Linked DNA regions of Homo sapiens. The protein of the gene in region 1 binds, or shares a complex with, the protein of each later gene. Each region holds a gene or a part of one and is shown on either strand. Other genes may lie near its edges.

Region 1 (7,805 bases):
TTAATGAATCACTACAAACTATCCATATTAAACAAAATATATATCTGTATTATATACAATACATACAACTCTATATTAACATAGTTGACTAAGCATATATTGGAACAGTTTCTAAATAAGTAATGATATTTAAATACTTAGGCTATTAAAAGTCCTCAAAATTCATAAATAGTTAAACTACAGTAGCTCTGGCAAGCATGTGTTGGTATATTTTGGGGTAATGGTCAATGCAGGGGCTGACTCTAGGCTACATTTATCTCCTGACCACTTAGAATTCAGAGCAGAATTCAGAAGGTCATCCTCAGATTTTTCTACACCAGTCAGGCACACCAAGGAGCCAAACAAGTAATTTAAGACCTTCATTAATTAGCATCTTGCATTTTGGTAAACGTCACTCTTTCTGAGAATTCCATTGAATAGAGCAGAGTGTCAATTTAACGAAGCCACAGTCATGTTCTATTTTTTTTTTCTTTTAGGCAGGGTCTTGCCCTGTTGTCTAGGCTGGAGTGCAGTGATGCAATCACAACTTACTGCAGCCTCGAGCTCCAGAGCTCAAGTGATCCTCTCGCCTCAGTCTGTAGGACTACAGGCACACGCCACTACCCCCAGCTAATTTTTTGTAGAGATGGGGTTTTGCCATGTTGCCCAAGCTGGTCACAAACTCCTGAGCTCACGCGATCCTCCCGCCTTGGCCTTCCAAAGTGCTGGGATTACAGAGCCGCCGTACCTGTCCCACAGTCATTTTCTTAAGGATAAATTGTTTCATCTTACTTTGTCCCACATTTATAGAAAGTAACATAGACAACCATCTTAGAAATATCAACAATTGAGCAAGCACTCTAAGAATGGCTAATAAACATGTAGAAACATGCTCAACTTTATTAATAATCAGGGAAATTCAAATTAAGATTATAACATCATTTTATAATTACTAAATTGGGGGAAAATTTTAAATCTGACAATATCAAATGAGAAACAATAAACATACAGCAGCTAGGCATGTAGTTTGTACAATCACATTGGAAAACAATCTCGTATTATCTAGAGTAAACTTGAAGATAAACATAACCCCTGTTTCAACAATTCAACTTTTAGGTATTTATCCTAAGCCTACTAATCAAAGTGTAGTTGGCTAACCAATAGCATTTGTATCACCTGGAGCTTGTTAGAAATGCAGAATGGCAGGTTTACCCACATTTACTGAATTAGAATCTGCTTGTTAACAAGATCCCCGGTTGCTATGAATGCTCATTAATGTCTGAGAAGCGCTGTGCTAAAGAAACCCTAGAACATGCACCAGGAGAAATGATCAAGAATGTTCATAACAGCACTGACGGTAATAGCAAATAACTAGAAATAGCACAAATATCCACTCAGTAGAGAATGGATAAATAAATCATGTCAGAAAAACTAGTTGCAGAAAGATACATACAGTTTAATACCATTTTTATGAGACTCAAAAACAAGCAAAAGTAAATAATATGTTACTAGGCATCCATCCATATATGTATATGTGGTCAATTCTAAAATAAACAAAGGAATGAAAAACACAATTCAAGATAACGCTTATGAAGGGGAGAGGTAAAGGAAGGAGCAGACAGTGATCTTCACTAACGGGAAAGATTCTATTTCTTTTTTTTTTAGTTTAAAATGTATTTTATTTTTAGACAACCTACATAATGTGTTTTTCCATAGGTTCTATTTCTTAAAGTTGAGTGATAGGTTCAAGGGTTTTTGTTATATTATCATGTGACATATGTATTTGTTTTGTATTGTTTTGAGATGGAATCTTGCTCTATTGCCCAGGCTGGAGTGCAATGGCACAATCTTGGCTCACCACAACCTTCGCCTCCCAGATTTAAGCAATTCTCCTGCCTCAGCCTCCCGAGTATCTGGGACTACAGGCGCATGCCACCATGCCTGGCTAATTTTTGTATTTTTAGTAGAGATGGGGTTTCACTATGTTGGCCAGGCTGGTCTCGAACTGCTGACCTCGTGATCTACCCGCCTTCGCCTCCCAATGTGCTGGGATTACAGGCATGAGCCACCACGTCCAGACTTATGTATTTGTTTTTATTCATATGTTCATTATTGTCTCATATAACACAGTTTTAACAGCTTTATTATGGTGTACTTTACATACCATAAAATTCACCTGTCTTAAGTGTATAATTCAAAGATTTTTAGTAAATGTACAGAATTATGCAATCATTGCCACAAAGTGGCAACAGAAAATTTTCATCACCACAAAAAAAATCTCTCTTGCCTCTGCAATCACTGCCCCTTCCACCTCTAGCCCCAGGCGAATTTGTTTTCTAATGCTAACCTTATTAATTAATAATACTAATATAATCTTATTATATAACTAATATAACTAAAACTAATCTGTTTTTCATCTCTATAAATCAACATTTTCTGGACATTTAATTTAAATGGAATAATGTAATATGTGATCTTTTGTGCTTGTATTCTTTTACTTAGCATAATATTTTTTTGACATTCATCCATGTCATAGCAATTATCGCTAATTCAGTCATTTTTAAGGATGAATAATATTTCAGAATATGGATGTACCACATTTTGTTTATTCACCTGTTAATGGACATCTGGGCTGTTTCTAGATTTTGGCTGTTATGCTGTTATGATTATTCCTATTCAAGTCTTTGTGTGAACACTGTTGTCATTTCTCTTATGTAGCTATCCAGGAGTGGAATTGGTGGGTCATAACTGGCCATTTTTAAATCTAAAAAAAGAGAAGAAATGGGGTCTTTGTTTCTTTCAAACTCGAATAAAAGAATTAACTAGGGAATAGATGGTGTATTTCTTTCCAGATGCTGGAATGAAAGATAAGGACACATATTATACTGAATATAGAAGCAAGAATCCATTGACATAAGAAGACGGTAAAGGAAAATAAACTAGTTATCTTCTGAGGAGCAGGTACAGTTAAAAACGAAATTAGGACAAAGAAAGTTGTATAGCAGCAGCTTGGAAGGGAGATGATTCACTTCAAAGGTACAACTGCCACTGCTTTTTATACAAACACATGCTTGTGGGATTATCAAATATATTAATAATGTCTATAAACATTTTTAAGGAAATGTAAAAACTTGAAATTCTTTTGACTACTCTAGATTTTCTGAGAAAGATAGCTATTTAGGCCGGACCCAGTGGCTCATGCCTGTAATCCTAGGACTTTGGGAGGCTGAAATGGGAAGATCGCAGTTTGAGACCAGGACTTTGAGACCAGCCTGGGCAACATAGAGAGATCCCATCTTGAACTTCTGAGCTCAAGCCATTTGCCTGCCTCAGCCTCCCAAAGTGCTGGAATTATGGGCAGGAGCCACCACGCCTGGCCCAAGAGACCCTATCTCTACCAAACAAACAAACAAACAAAAAAGATAATAAGATTTATTGTTTGCATTGATTTTTTGTGTGTAGATGTGTAATACATAAAATGGCAAATGAGGGGGAAAAGTGTTTGGGTCATATTAAACAATGAAGTTGTGAAATACCTGAGATTTTGTTTCATAACCACTAATCTTCAATGTTGAGCATTTAAAATGTATTTGTTCCAGTTTTTTTTCTCTGTAATTCCTTAGACATCTGTGCAGATTTTCATTCCCACGTAAGAAGCAATAACAGACTAATGTCATCCTGGACATTTCCAGGAATTGGTTTCCTAGTTGCTCTGAGGAAGATTGCCTTTTAAAAGAAAGCTCTGATCTGTTCTTTACCAGTTCCACTTGACCTGAATTTGACATTTCTTTAAGAGACAACTAAATCAAGATCATGTGTCTGTGACATGTATTGCATATGCTAGTTAGCTGCATCTGATAGCAGTCTGTAAAAAGAAAGATGATAACATGTTTATTTTAGACATTAGGTAATGTTCATCTTTCATGAAAAAAATTGATTAGCCAATTTTGGTAATCAAAAACATAAATGGGAGTAAAAAAGGCAGTCATTGGGAAGTACTGCTGTATGGACTTGTGAAACAACTAGTTGTCCAGAGCCTTGCTACAACGTATAGAAATATTCTATTTTCTGTATTTGGGGCGGCTACACTACAAGATGAAGACGGGGAAATGTTTTCCAACTCATCGCTCAGGTCCTACTGCAACATAACTTTCTTGAGGTAAGTACCTTTCTTTGTGTTTCCTTAACACTCTCTATTTTCCCCATCACATACACTAAAAAGATTATCTTTGGTGCATCTGTATTTACACAGCAGTGTTAAATTTGGGCTGCCCTCTGCCCCGCCTCCGTCCCCCAGGCTCTTTTCACTCCCCGCTGGGTCCCAGATCCTAGGGTTTAGCTCAGGCTCCGCCCTACTCCTTGGTTGGCTGTTGGGTGGGAGGCTCGTTTCTTCCCTCCCTATTGGTCGCCCAGGGGGAGGCGCGTTTCCCATCTCCTGATAGGCCGCGCCGAGGAGAGTCTCTCCAGTTTGCGGCACTGTTGTCATTTCCGGGGTAAGATGGCTGCAGTCCGTATGCTGAGAACCTGGAGCAGGAATGCGGGGAAGCTGGTAAGCACGTTTGGGCAGATCTGAGGCCGGGAAGGAGTGATTTGTCCGGAGTCATCCAGGAGTGGTGTTTTACTTTCTCCTCCGGTGCCAGGCGTCCAGGGCACGCGTGATGGAGAGGTGAAGGGATGCATGCAAAATAAAGGGCAGAGAACGGAGCGAGTCGACCAGTCTGGAGTGGAAACCCACTCCCTCCCCTTACCTGGAAGCGCTTCTGCAGCGACTCAGCCGTCCTGCTCCATCTGTACCCCGAGGCCCAGCTAGCGTTTTATTGAGCGCCTTCCAGGTGCCCAGGCATTGTGATAGGCGCTGTGGATCCAGAGATATATTCGTTTAGCATTTATTGCGTACCCACAGTATGCCAAACACTGGTAACACGACCCCTACCCTCAAGGAATCTACAGTGTGTAGAGGAAGAGGCCGTTCAAGTTATAGAATATCAGCAGGGGTCCCTGCTTCCGAAGAACTGAGCAGCTCGGCGTCACTCTTTTGCCTTGTACTTCTATGTCCGCACCACATATCATTCCTACCCTTTTGTCACCAAGGCTGTGACCCATCACCATCTCCCCTGCACTTCCTTCTCTTTCTCCCAGTCTTAGCACCAAGCACTGACACATACCGGTAATGATACTTGTTACCCCTATTTGCTTAGTGTTTCTTCTTCCTGCCTCTTCTCCCTTTCCCTAGATGCTCCTGCCTTGGTGACCCCGATCTTACAAAAACTTTCAAGAGCCTGCTATGTACCAGTGCTGTGTTAGGCACTGGAGATACAAATATGAAATAGACATCATATCTTCCTTCTCAAGAGATTACAACCTTGTGGTGGAGGACAAAGGAGAGGGAGACAGATAGAAATTACAACCCAGCATGAGAGGTACTGTGATGGGACAAGTGCCTAGAACTACAGGAACACACAGGAGTGGACACCTATGGTGGACTTGGGGGTCAGAGGAGTTCCCAGAGGATACTGTATGACTTGAGATGTAAGAAGGATAAGTAAGAGATAACCAGGAGAAGAGAGCTCTTCTCAGCAACACTTAACACATATTGGTCTCTCTTCTTTCTAGAGCTTTCCATTCTTGTTTTCTGTGACACCAGTTTCCCAATATTATTCTTTCTTCATCTTTGGCCACTTCATCCCAATATCCTGTTTCCCTTCCCGCCTTTTAAATATTGCTTTTTCTAAAGGGCTCTGACTTTGGCCCTCTGCACTTTTCCCACTTTCTGGGTTATCCCATCCACTCTTTGGCTTTAGTTACCATCTATGCTGATGAGTCCTAAAGTTCCCCAGTCTTCCAACCAGGTCTACTCCAAACCCATATATCCTACTGTCCTGGAAATCTCCAGTTTCATATGTACGTGATGTTTTCCAGCTGCAATTAAAAACCCAACCAATAAATAGGAAATTAAGTATCCATGCATACAGAGCATCCCCAATTAGATGTCAGCTCACATTAAGTGGCTTATGATTATCAATGTCGTCATTTCCCTAGTAGTTCATTTGTCCTTTTCCTACTGTATACAAGAGGGCTGCTACGACTTCTTCTTTTATGTTGAAGGCAGGAAGGTGGAAGAGGAGGAGGTTCCAGTCTCACTGGCCAGAACTGTGTTACATGGCCCCGGCTAGCACAAGGGAGCTTAGAAAAACTTGTCTTTTTTTTTTTTTTTTTTGAAATGGAGTCTCTCTCTGTCACCCAGGCTGGAGTACAGTGGTGCGATCTTGGCTCACTGCAACCCCTGCCTCCCAGTTTCAAGCGATTCTTTTGCCTCAGCCTCCCAAATATCTGGGACTACAGGCACACGCCACCATGCCCAGCTAATTTTTGTATTTTTAGTAGAGACGAGGTTTCACCATGATGGCCAGGCTGGTCTCAAACTCCTGACCTCAAGTGATCCGCCTGCCTTGGCCTCCCAAAGTGCTGGGATTACAGGATGAGCCACCATGCCCAGCAGAAAAGCTTGTCTTTAGTCTTCTCACAGTGTCTGCCGTAAAGCTTCAAAGCAGGTCAGACTCTCCAGCCTCTAGAACTGAACCCTCAAACCAGTTTCTCTTAATTTTTTTTTTTTTTTTTTTTGAGAAGAGTCTTGATCTGTTGCCCAGGCTGGAGTGCAGTGGTGCAATCTCGGCTTACTGCAACCTCCACCTCCTGGGTTCAAGTGATTTTCCTGCCTCAGCCTCCCAAGTAGCTGGCACTACAGGCGCGAACCACCATGCCTGGCTAATTTTTGTATTTTTAGTAGAGACGGGGTTTTGCCATGTTGGCCAGGCTGGTCTTGAATTCCTGACCTCAGGTGATCCTCCTGCCTTGGCCTCCCAAAGTGCTGGGATTACAGGCGTAAGCCACTGCCCCTGGCCCAGTTTCTCTTGATTTGAGCCTGTAATTCTCTCTGAAGAAATCTAGTCATGATTTTTCCACCCTGCCCTCAACTGGAGGTGTCTTGGCCCTTCTTAACTGGATTATATGCCTCCAGTGGTCTTGTAGTTTTTCCAACCCATTCTCCATAGTGTAGCCAGAGTGATCTTATAAAGTAAGAGACATTTGATAATATCATTTTCTTGTTTAAAACTGCCTTCAGCAAAATGTCCAAAATTCAAATGACTATGAGGCAATTTATGATCTGGACCTTTCCAGTCTCTTAGATCTCATTCCTTACCAAAACCTACCCATCCCAACCCCAACTCTGACACTTCCCCACCCTTATTCCACACTAAACTACACTAGAAGTCTGTTGAACAACTTGAGTTATTTGCACACACACTGTGCTTTCTGTCTCAACTCCAGACCTTTGCACATGTATTTCCTCTGCTTTAAAGACTCTTGCCTTACTCCACTGTGGCCTTATCTGCAACATACCTCATCCCCGGGGTTACACCTACTCATCCGTCAGGTCTTACTTCAACATAACTTTCTCCAGCTAGGTTCCCTTAACACACTCTATTTCCTTCATTATAGCACGTGTTATAATCACCGGTTTACTTGTCTTTACCTTTCACTGTACTGTGCATTCTATAAGGGAAGAAATTGCATCTGTTTTGTTCTCTGTATAATCCCAAGTGCCTGGCACATTGTAGGTGTGCATAAATATTTTTTAAATGACTCAGTAAAAAAAAAAGTCAGGTTTGTAAACTCTTCTAAAAAGTTGTAAGCAAAAACAGTTCTTACCCCCGTAGTAAATTATTAAAATAGCCTTATAATGTTGTGTTTTACATTTCCCTAGGACATAATGCATTTGACTCTTGATTAATCATGCCATTTGGAATTTTTCTGTTGTGTCTGTC
Region 2 (7,488 bases), on another chromosome or scaffold:
TGAAGGTACATTTTCTTCTAAGACTTACTGAGTCTGTTACACTGGCTCAACAAGGAATTAAGATATAGTTTGATATGAGGAGGAAAGGGCTTGAGAAAGGAACTGATGTTGGTTAAATGCTTACCATGGGCTAGACCTTGTACATATATCATCTACTGAATAATTACAACAACCTGTCGTGTGGGAGCTAGCACCTTGTGTTACCTTTAAAGAAAGTGAAGATTAGAAAAGTTAAGAAATGTTTACAAGTTTCCACATTTATTTATTACATTGAGGAGCAAGAATTCATAAACCTTTTCAACTCCAAAACTCATGCTCTTGTCATTATATTATCAACTGTACCAAAAAACTCGATGAAATGTAGCCTATTGTATTTAATATTTCCTTTTTCTTAAACCAGCAAAAGAAGTGTTTTGAAAAACCATGCTTTTCAAATATTTTGATTGCCTGACTTATTGCATGTATAATGAATAACTCATCTCCATTAACCCACTTAAATTAAGGGGTTTAATGAACCCCTTAAACTGCCAGTTAGAACTTCTGATTCATTTAAGGTAACCACTGTTAAGAATTAAAATAAGTGGGCTGGGTGCGGTGGCTCACACCTGTAATCCCAGCACTTTCGGAGGCCGAGGCGGGTGGATCACGAGGTCAGGAGATGGAGACCATCCTGGCCAACATGGTGAAACCCTGTCTCTACTAAAATACAAAAATTAGCCAGGCGTGGTGGCGGGCACCTGTAATCCCAGCTACTTGGGAGGCTGAGGCAGGTGAATCACTTGAACCTGGGAGGCAGAGGTTGCAGTGAGCTGAGATCGAGCCACTGCACTCCAGCTTGGTGACAGAGCAAGGTTCCGTCAAAAAATAAAATAAAATAAAATAAGTGAGAGACAATATAAATCTTTAAAATATGCTTTGTCTTTGACCTAGCAATTCCACTTCTGGGAATTTACTGCAAGGAAATGATAAAGAATGTGTGCAAAGACTTAGTGATAAGCTAATCACGATATTGAAAAATTGGTAATGGCTTACATATCTAATAATAAAATATAGTTGAATAAATTAGGGTATGTCCCAAAATACTCAGTAGTCATTAGAAGTAGGCTAATATTGAGAGGTGACAGCGTGCTGGCAGCCCTTGCAGCCCTGGCTCCCTCTCGGCGCCCCCTCGGCCTTGGTGCCCACTCTGGCCACGCTTGAGGAGCCCTTCAGCCTGCTGCTGCACTGTGGGAGTCCCTTTCTGGGCTGGCCAAGGCTGGAGCCGGCTCCCTCTGCTTGCGGGGAGGTGTGGAGGGAGAGGCGCGGGTGGGAACTGGGGCTTCGTGCAGCGCTTGCGGGCCAGCTAGAGTTCCGGGTGGGCGTGGGCTTGGTGGGCCCTGCACTCGCAGCGGCTGGCCGGCCCCACTTGCCCCGGGCAGTGAGGGGCTTAGCACCCAGGCCAGCAGCTGCAGAGGGTGCGCCAGGTCCCCCAGCAGTGCTGGCCCACTGGCGCCCAAGGGCTGAGGAGTGCGGGCACACAGCGGGACTGGCGGGCAGCTCCGCCTGCCGCCCCAGCGCAGGATCCACTGGGTGAAGCCAGCTGGGCTCCTGAGTCTAGTGGGGACTTGGAGAACCTTTGTGTCTAGCTAAGGGATTGTGAGTGCACCAATCAGCACTCTGTGTCTTGCTCAAGGCTTGTGAACACACCAATCAGCACCCTGTGTCTAGCTCAGGGTTTGTGGATGCACCAATTGGCACTCTGTATCTAGCTAATGTGGCGGGGACTTGGGGAATCTTTATGTCTAGCTAAGGGATTGTGAATACACCAATCGGCACTCTGTATCTAGCTCAAGGTTTGTAAACACACCAATCAGCACCCTGTGTGTAGCTCAGGGTTTGTGGATGCACCAATCGGCACTCTTTATCTAGCTAATCTGGTGGGGACTTGGAGAATCTTTATGTCTAGCTAAGGGATTGTGAATGCACCAATCGGCACTCTGTGTCTAGCTCAAGGTTTGTAAATGCACCAATTAGCACTCTGTGTCTAGCTAATCTGGTGGGGAATTGGAGAATCTTTACGTCTAGCTAAGGGATTGTGAATGCACCAATCGTCACTCTGTATCTAGCTCAAGGTTTGTAAATGCACCAATCAGCACTCTGTGTCTAGCTCAGAGTTTGAAAATACACCAATCGACACTCTGTATCTAGCTAATCTAGCGGGGACTTGGAGAACTTTTGTGTCTAGCTCAGCCATTGTAAACGCACCAATCAGCACCCTGTCAAAATGGACCAATCAGCTCTCTGTAAAACAGACCAATCAGCTCTCTGTAAAATGGACCAATCAGCAGAATGTGGGTGGGGCCAGATAATAAAAGCAGGCTGCCTGAGCCAGCAGTGGCAACCCGCTTGGGTCCCGTTCCACAGCGTGGAAGCTTTGTTCTTTCACTCTTTGCAATAAATCTTGCTGCTGCTCACTCTTTGGGTCCACACTGCCTTTATGAGCTGTAACACAGCGAAGGTTTGCAGCTTCACTCCTGAAGCCAGTGAGACCACAAACCCACCAGGAGGAATGAACAACTCCAGACGCGCTGCCTTAAGAGCTGTAACGCTCACCGCAAAGGTCTGCAGCTTCACTCCTGATCTAGCGAGACCACGAACCCACCAGAAGGAAGAAAGTCCGAACACATCCAAACGTCAGAAGGAACAAACTCCGGACACGCCGCCTTTAAGAACTGTAACACTCACTGCGAGGGTCCGCAGCTTCATTCTTGAAGTCAGTGAGACCAAGAACCCACCAATTCTGGACACAATATGAATATGGAAAGTTGCTCATGAGATAGTTTTAAGTGAAAAAAATCAAGTTAGCAAAATAAGTGTGGTCCAATTTCTGGTTATATTCCTTAGCTGGAATATAAACACTGCTAGTGTGGGCTGTCCATTGTTGACATCGCTCCCTCCACCTCCCGTGTGTTCGCATTAATTTATATGCGTTGTGGCTTTTGTTCTAGCTGAGAGGAGAAGAGGTATAGTTGGTACAAGAGATGAGGAGGAATGTGGAGAAATATGGTGAGTGCAGTAAGGAATCTATTTCCTGCCTCACTTCTCATACTGGGTTGAGCCCCTAGGCTTTGTGAATGACAGCTGGAAAGGATGGAAGTGTTTCATTTTTTAAAAATAAAAATATGATATTGTAATTTTGGACAAAGGAGTAGGGAACAAAGCCCAAGAAAGTTCAGGAAAGAATTGTGAGATTTTGTGCATATGGAGCAGTAACTCCTAGACCAGATGTCAAAGACTGCCATGAAGCTGGAGAGGAGACAATTCTCCCCATCTGTGTGGTGGAGGCTGCTCAATGTCCCCCAATTTCGCTTCATCTCATCTTGCTTATTAATACAATTTCAGTTAGGCACTCAGCTGACAGGACTATGTTTCACAGATCCCCTTGCAGCTAGGTGTGGCTTTGTAATCAGATGGAATGAGGGGATATGATTGTAGAAACTGGAGCAGCCATCTTGAATGAAAGATGCAAGGCAAGCTCTGATGATGGCAGAGTCACGAGATAAAAGGAGCCTGGGACCCTGTCACAGGACAGAGCTGCCAGCAATACCGTCTCTATAACAAACACTAAATTTAATTATTCATATCTAAATCTGAACATAGGCAGTAATTTCTAACCAGTGTTTAGCCCAGCACAAGGCCTGGGTGGTAGACTTCCAATAAATGTAGAATTAAGTTTATTCACACTATATAGACTTATTGCAAGGCAAGAATGAGACCTTAGACTTTCGTGCTCAATCTTGAAGACAATGTTTTTCAACCCTTTTCAACAGATTCTCTCTCAAAACCTAAAATCTCATCCACCATCCCACTCTCTTTTTACCAGGGAGATGTGTTTCTCAACTAAAGAAATAGAAGAAAGTGTGTTCTCTACGTATTGTCAGTTAGCTAATTAGAGCAGAATGCTGGTGATGCCAAAATCTGTAGCCCCATCCCTTATATGGCATTTGAGAGGAGCGAGTATAAAGCAGTAGATAATACCAAAGGTTTTGGCCTCAGGGCCGCAGTTATCTCTCCTTTGTGAGACCTTGGGGGCACTGTTTAACCTCTCTGGGTCTCATCCAAGAAATGGAAATACTAATAATACTCCATATGGTTGTTGCAAGGATGAAATGAGATGTCTGTAGGAAGTGCCGAGGAATGCCTAGCACAACCAAGAGCTTGTTGAACTTGTCACGCTTTACTGTCGATAATGTGCATTAAGCAAACGCTAGTTTTATTTGTTTATTTCATCTTCTAAGTATAAGAATACATTGTAGCTCGACATTTTGGCACCAGCCCCTAAAGCATTCCCACCACCACCCCCGCTGCGACAAAGCCCTGCGCTCCTTACGACAGCGTACGACGCCGAGCCTGACAGGAACGCCTCGTGCGGTAGAACCGCGCGGGCCAATCGCGCTGCTCCCGGGTGATGACGTAGGCTGCGCCTGTGCATGCGCAGGGAGGGGAGACCTTGGCGGAGCGGCGGAGGCGCCCAGCGGAGGTGAAAGTATTGGCGGAAAGGAAAATACAGCGGAAAAATGCAGAGCTGGAGTCGTGTGTACTGCTCCTTGGCCAAGGTGAGGGCCGAGTAGGTGAGGTCGTGTTGAGCCAGAGGCACGGAAGGTCCCGCTCAGTGGGTCCGGTACGCGGCTTAACCGTGTTGGGCTGGCGGAGGCGGGCGCCTGGGCCGCACCACCCCTGGCCCCGCCTCTGCACTGGCTCAGCCCGGCCCTGGGCTCCGAGGTGGCCGCTCATCCTGCAGCAGGCGAGGGACGGGGCTGGGCCCAGGCTGTGGCGAGTCCTTTCGGGTTGTGTGACGGCCGGCGGTCACACATGCCACACCCCCAAGCCTGGGCCGAGGGCCATCCCGGTCACACATAGGCCTCTACCTTGGAGGAAGTGTAAGCCACCCATGTCCCGTATAGTCTGGCTTTTTATACCATTTGCCTTTTTCTCATCCTAATTCTGATCCCTGAGTGGCCTAAGTTTATGCAGTGGGCAGGTAACCCTGGGGTCACTTCTTGAATGGTTTAGATCCAGTCAGCTCCAACAGATAGCCCTCGGAATTCCCCTAAGGTCTTGTCAGTGTTGGCAGCTTTCAACTGGTGTTCATTGCCATCTCTCACGACTTCCTGGAGGCTTAAATCTTTAATTGCAGCAGGTTATCAGAACAACTCTCCTTTTTAATCTGCTTACCAGATACAGCCAAATTGTGTGTATGTGGCACCGTGGCTGGGTACTATGTTAGTGGAGACCTTAAAAATAATATAGCGATCAAACCCTTTTGTTTCAGAGATGAGGAACCTGAGTTCTCAAAAGTTAATGTAACATTCTGCAAGTCATGCTTTTAGGGAGCGGCGGAGGTGGGACTGAAACTCAGGATTGTCAATCTGCTGCTTTTTGGGTTTGCTGTCCTGACCTCAAATGTTAAGAGTTGCCTTGGAATAGGAAACATCAGTGTAGGTTTTGTCACTGCCGCCCATTTTCCTGCTGTGAGCAGGGGTTATTTGCTTGCTTGCTTTCTGCCTCATTGCCCTTAGGAAATGGTAGCCGTCCACATATAGAGATTAGGGAGATTATGATGCAATTTGTCAAACTGTAGTAGCACCAGAACGTAAGTACATTACTTGGTGCATTTTCCTAAGTTACCTTGTCTAATTTGCTATTCCTAGTTGATGTCTCAGGAACATCTTCATAGATTGTTCTAAGTAAATACGGACTGTATATACACGCTAGCTTAGAGTTAGGAAACAAAAATTACAGGTAAAAAGATTATCATGTATAGATTATTCAAGTATTTAAGTTAGAACTTTCAGAGCTTTATTTATTTATTTATTTATTTATTTATTTTGAGACGGAGTCTCACTCTGACATCCAGGCTAGAGTGCAATGGCACTATCTCAGCTGACTGCAACTTCCGCCTCCCGGGTTCAAGTGATTCTCCTGCCTTGGCCTCCCGAGTAGCTGGGATTACAGGCACCCACCACTACACCCGGCTAATTTTCTTGTATTTTTAGTAGAGTCGGGGCTTCACTATGTTGGCCAGGCTGGTCTCGAACTCCTGACCTCAGGTGATCCGCCCACCTCAGCCTCCCAAAGTGTTGGCATTACAGGCGTGAGCCACCACGGCCGGCTCAGAGCTTTATGACATTAAAATGATCCCTGGCACTAATAATTAGCCATGTTTTCTGAAAATTGAATAAAAATACCATTGAATACGTTTTTAAAATTAAGTTAAATATGAGATGATTTGTTGACTATTGATAATAAAAAGATGGGTGTGGCAAGCTGAGGCTGAAAAATTTAAATGATTAGTTATTGTCAAAGAGGGGATATTGATCTGTAGCTTCTGTGTGGCAATGGAAGAAGATACACTAATAATCCTCGCTTGATACGTTTGCCCAAAATTGTTCTGTTATCATCAACCTTCAGTAGTTCTATGTTTTGAATTCATATCTTACATAATAGGGACATTTTCTTTTTCTAGAGAGGCCATTTCAATCGAATATCTCATGGCCTACAGGGACTTTCTGCAGTGCCTCTGAGAACTTACGCAGATCAGCCGAGTAAGTACTTAAGTAAAACATTTTTTTCATCACATTAGCTGACAGTTCCTTTCTATTTCAATGTAAAAGCAAGTGAATATTGGAATAACTTATGTTAAGTGTCTTATAGTTCATTTGTTCATGTATTTATTCGTTTGAATGTATATTGAGCTAGTGTGTTCCAGGCGGTGAACAAGGTAAAAAAACCCTGCTCTTATGAAACTTGTAATTTGGTGATAAAAGACAAACAATATATAAGTAATGGATAAATATTTTGGGAAGTAACTGAAAATTAAAGCAGGTAATAGGGAGGAAGAGAGATAATTTTAGATACAGTGTCAGGAAAGGCCTTTCTGAGGAGATGATGTCTGGGCAGGGTCCTGAGTGAAGTGGGGGAGTGAGGTTACTTCAGGCAGAGGGAAACAACACTGAGAAAGGCCTGAGGTGGGACTTAGCTTGTGAAGTTTAAGGAGTAATAAGAAGGCTGGTATGACTGGAGCAGAAACCCATGCAATGTAAAGTCGGAGAGGTAGGCAGGAGACAGATCATGGAGTGCCTTGTAAGGCAGGTCTAGTAGTTTGGATTATACTCCAAGTATGATGGGAAACAAAGGTTTTGAGCAGGGCAGCAATTTCATATGTTTACATTTAAAAAGTTAATTTTGTCCGTTGAGTAAGGTTGTATTGGTTATTTTAACACTGTTTAGAATGATGAGATGACTTTCTTGACATCCTGAATGAAAGTCTTCATGGGTTTATCAAAAGCATGTTTTAAAGATTAGCAGGATCTAAAAGGAAGCTATGGGTCATGGAATTTTCTCCTGTGTACTTTTTTTATATTTTTGAAGTTCCCATAAAGGATATGCATTTTATTTTTTTAAGTATTTAAAACAGAAAGTTAATAGGATTATATTGAAGTATTTTGA

The links. The genes of interacting proteins can lie anywhere in the genome.
Region 2: the proteins of DBT (region 1) and DLD are in contact, whole or in part, in a crystal structure (PDB 3RNM), measured with the Homo sapiens proteins. Residues at the interface, in NP_001909.4 of Homo sapiens: Thr174, Pro175, Ala176, Lys196, Arg199, Leu201, Lys202, Glu203, Leu206; in NP_000099.2 of Homo sapiens: Ser446, Thr447, Asp448, Arg449, Glu472, Tyr473, Gly474, Ser476, Glu478, Asp479, Arg482.

Annotation. Positions count from the first base shown.
Region 1 is NC_000001.11:100,246,493-100,254,297, reverse strand, and holds the start of DBT (lipoamide acyltransferase component of branched-chain alpha-keto acid dehydrogenase complex, mitochondrial isoform 1 precursor), read left to right. Parts: upstream 1-4,463; 5' UTR 4,464-4,477; coding exon 4,478-4,528; intron 4,529-5,212; exon of another isoform or gene 5,213-5,399; intron 5,400-7,805. UniProt on the Homo sapiens protein: The branched-chain alpha-keto dehydrogenase complex catalyzes the overall conversion of alpha-keto acids to acyl-CoA and CO(2).
Region 2 is NC_000007.14:107,886,695-107,894,182, forward strand, and holds the start of DLD (dihydrolipoyl dehydrogenase, mitochondrial isoform 1 precursor), read left to right. Parts: upstream 1-4,488; 5' UTR 4,489-4,556; coding exon 4,557-4,595; intron 4,596-6,505; coding exon 6,506-6,584; intron 6,585-7,488. UniProt on the Homo sapiens protein: Lipoamide dehydrogenase is a component of the glycine cleavage system as well as an E3 component of three alpha-ketoacid dehydrogenase complexes (pyruvate-, alpha-ketoglutarate-, and branched-chain amino acid-dehydrogenase complex).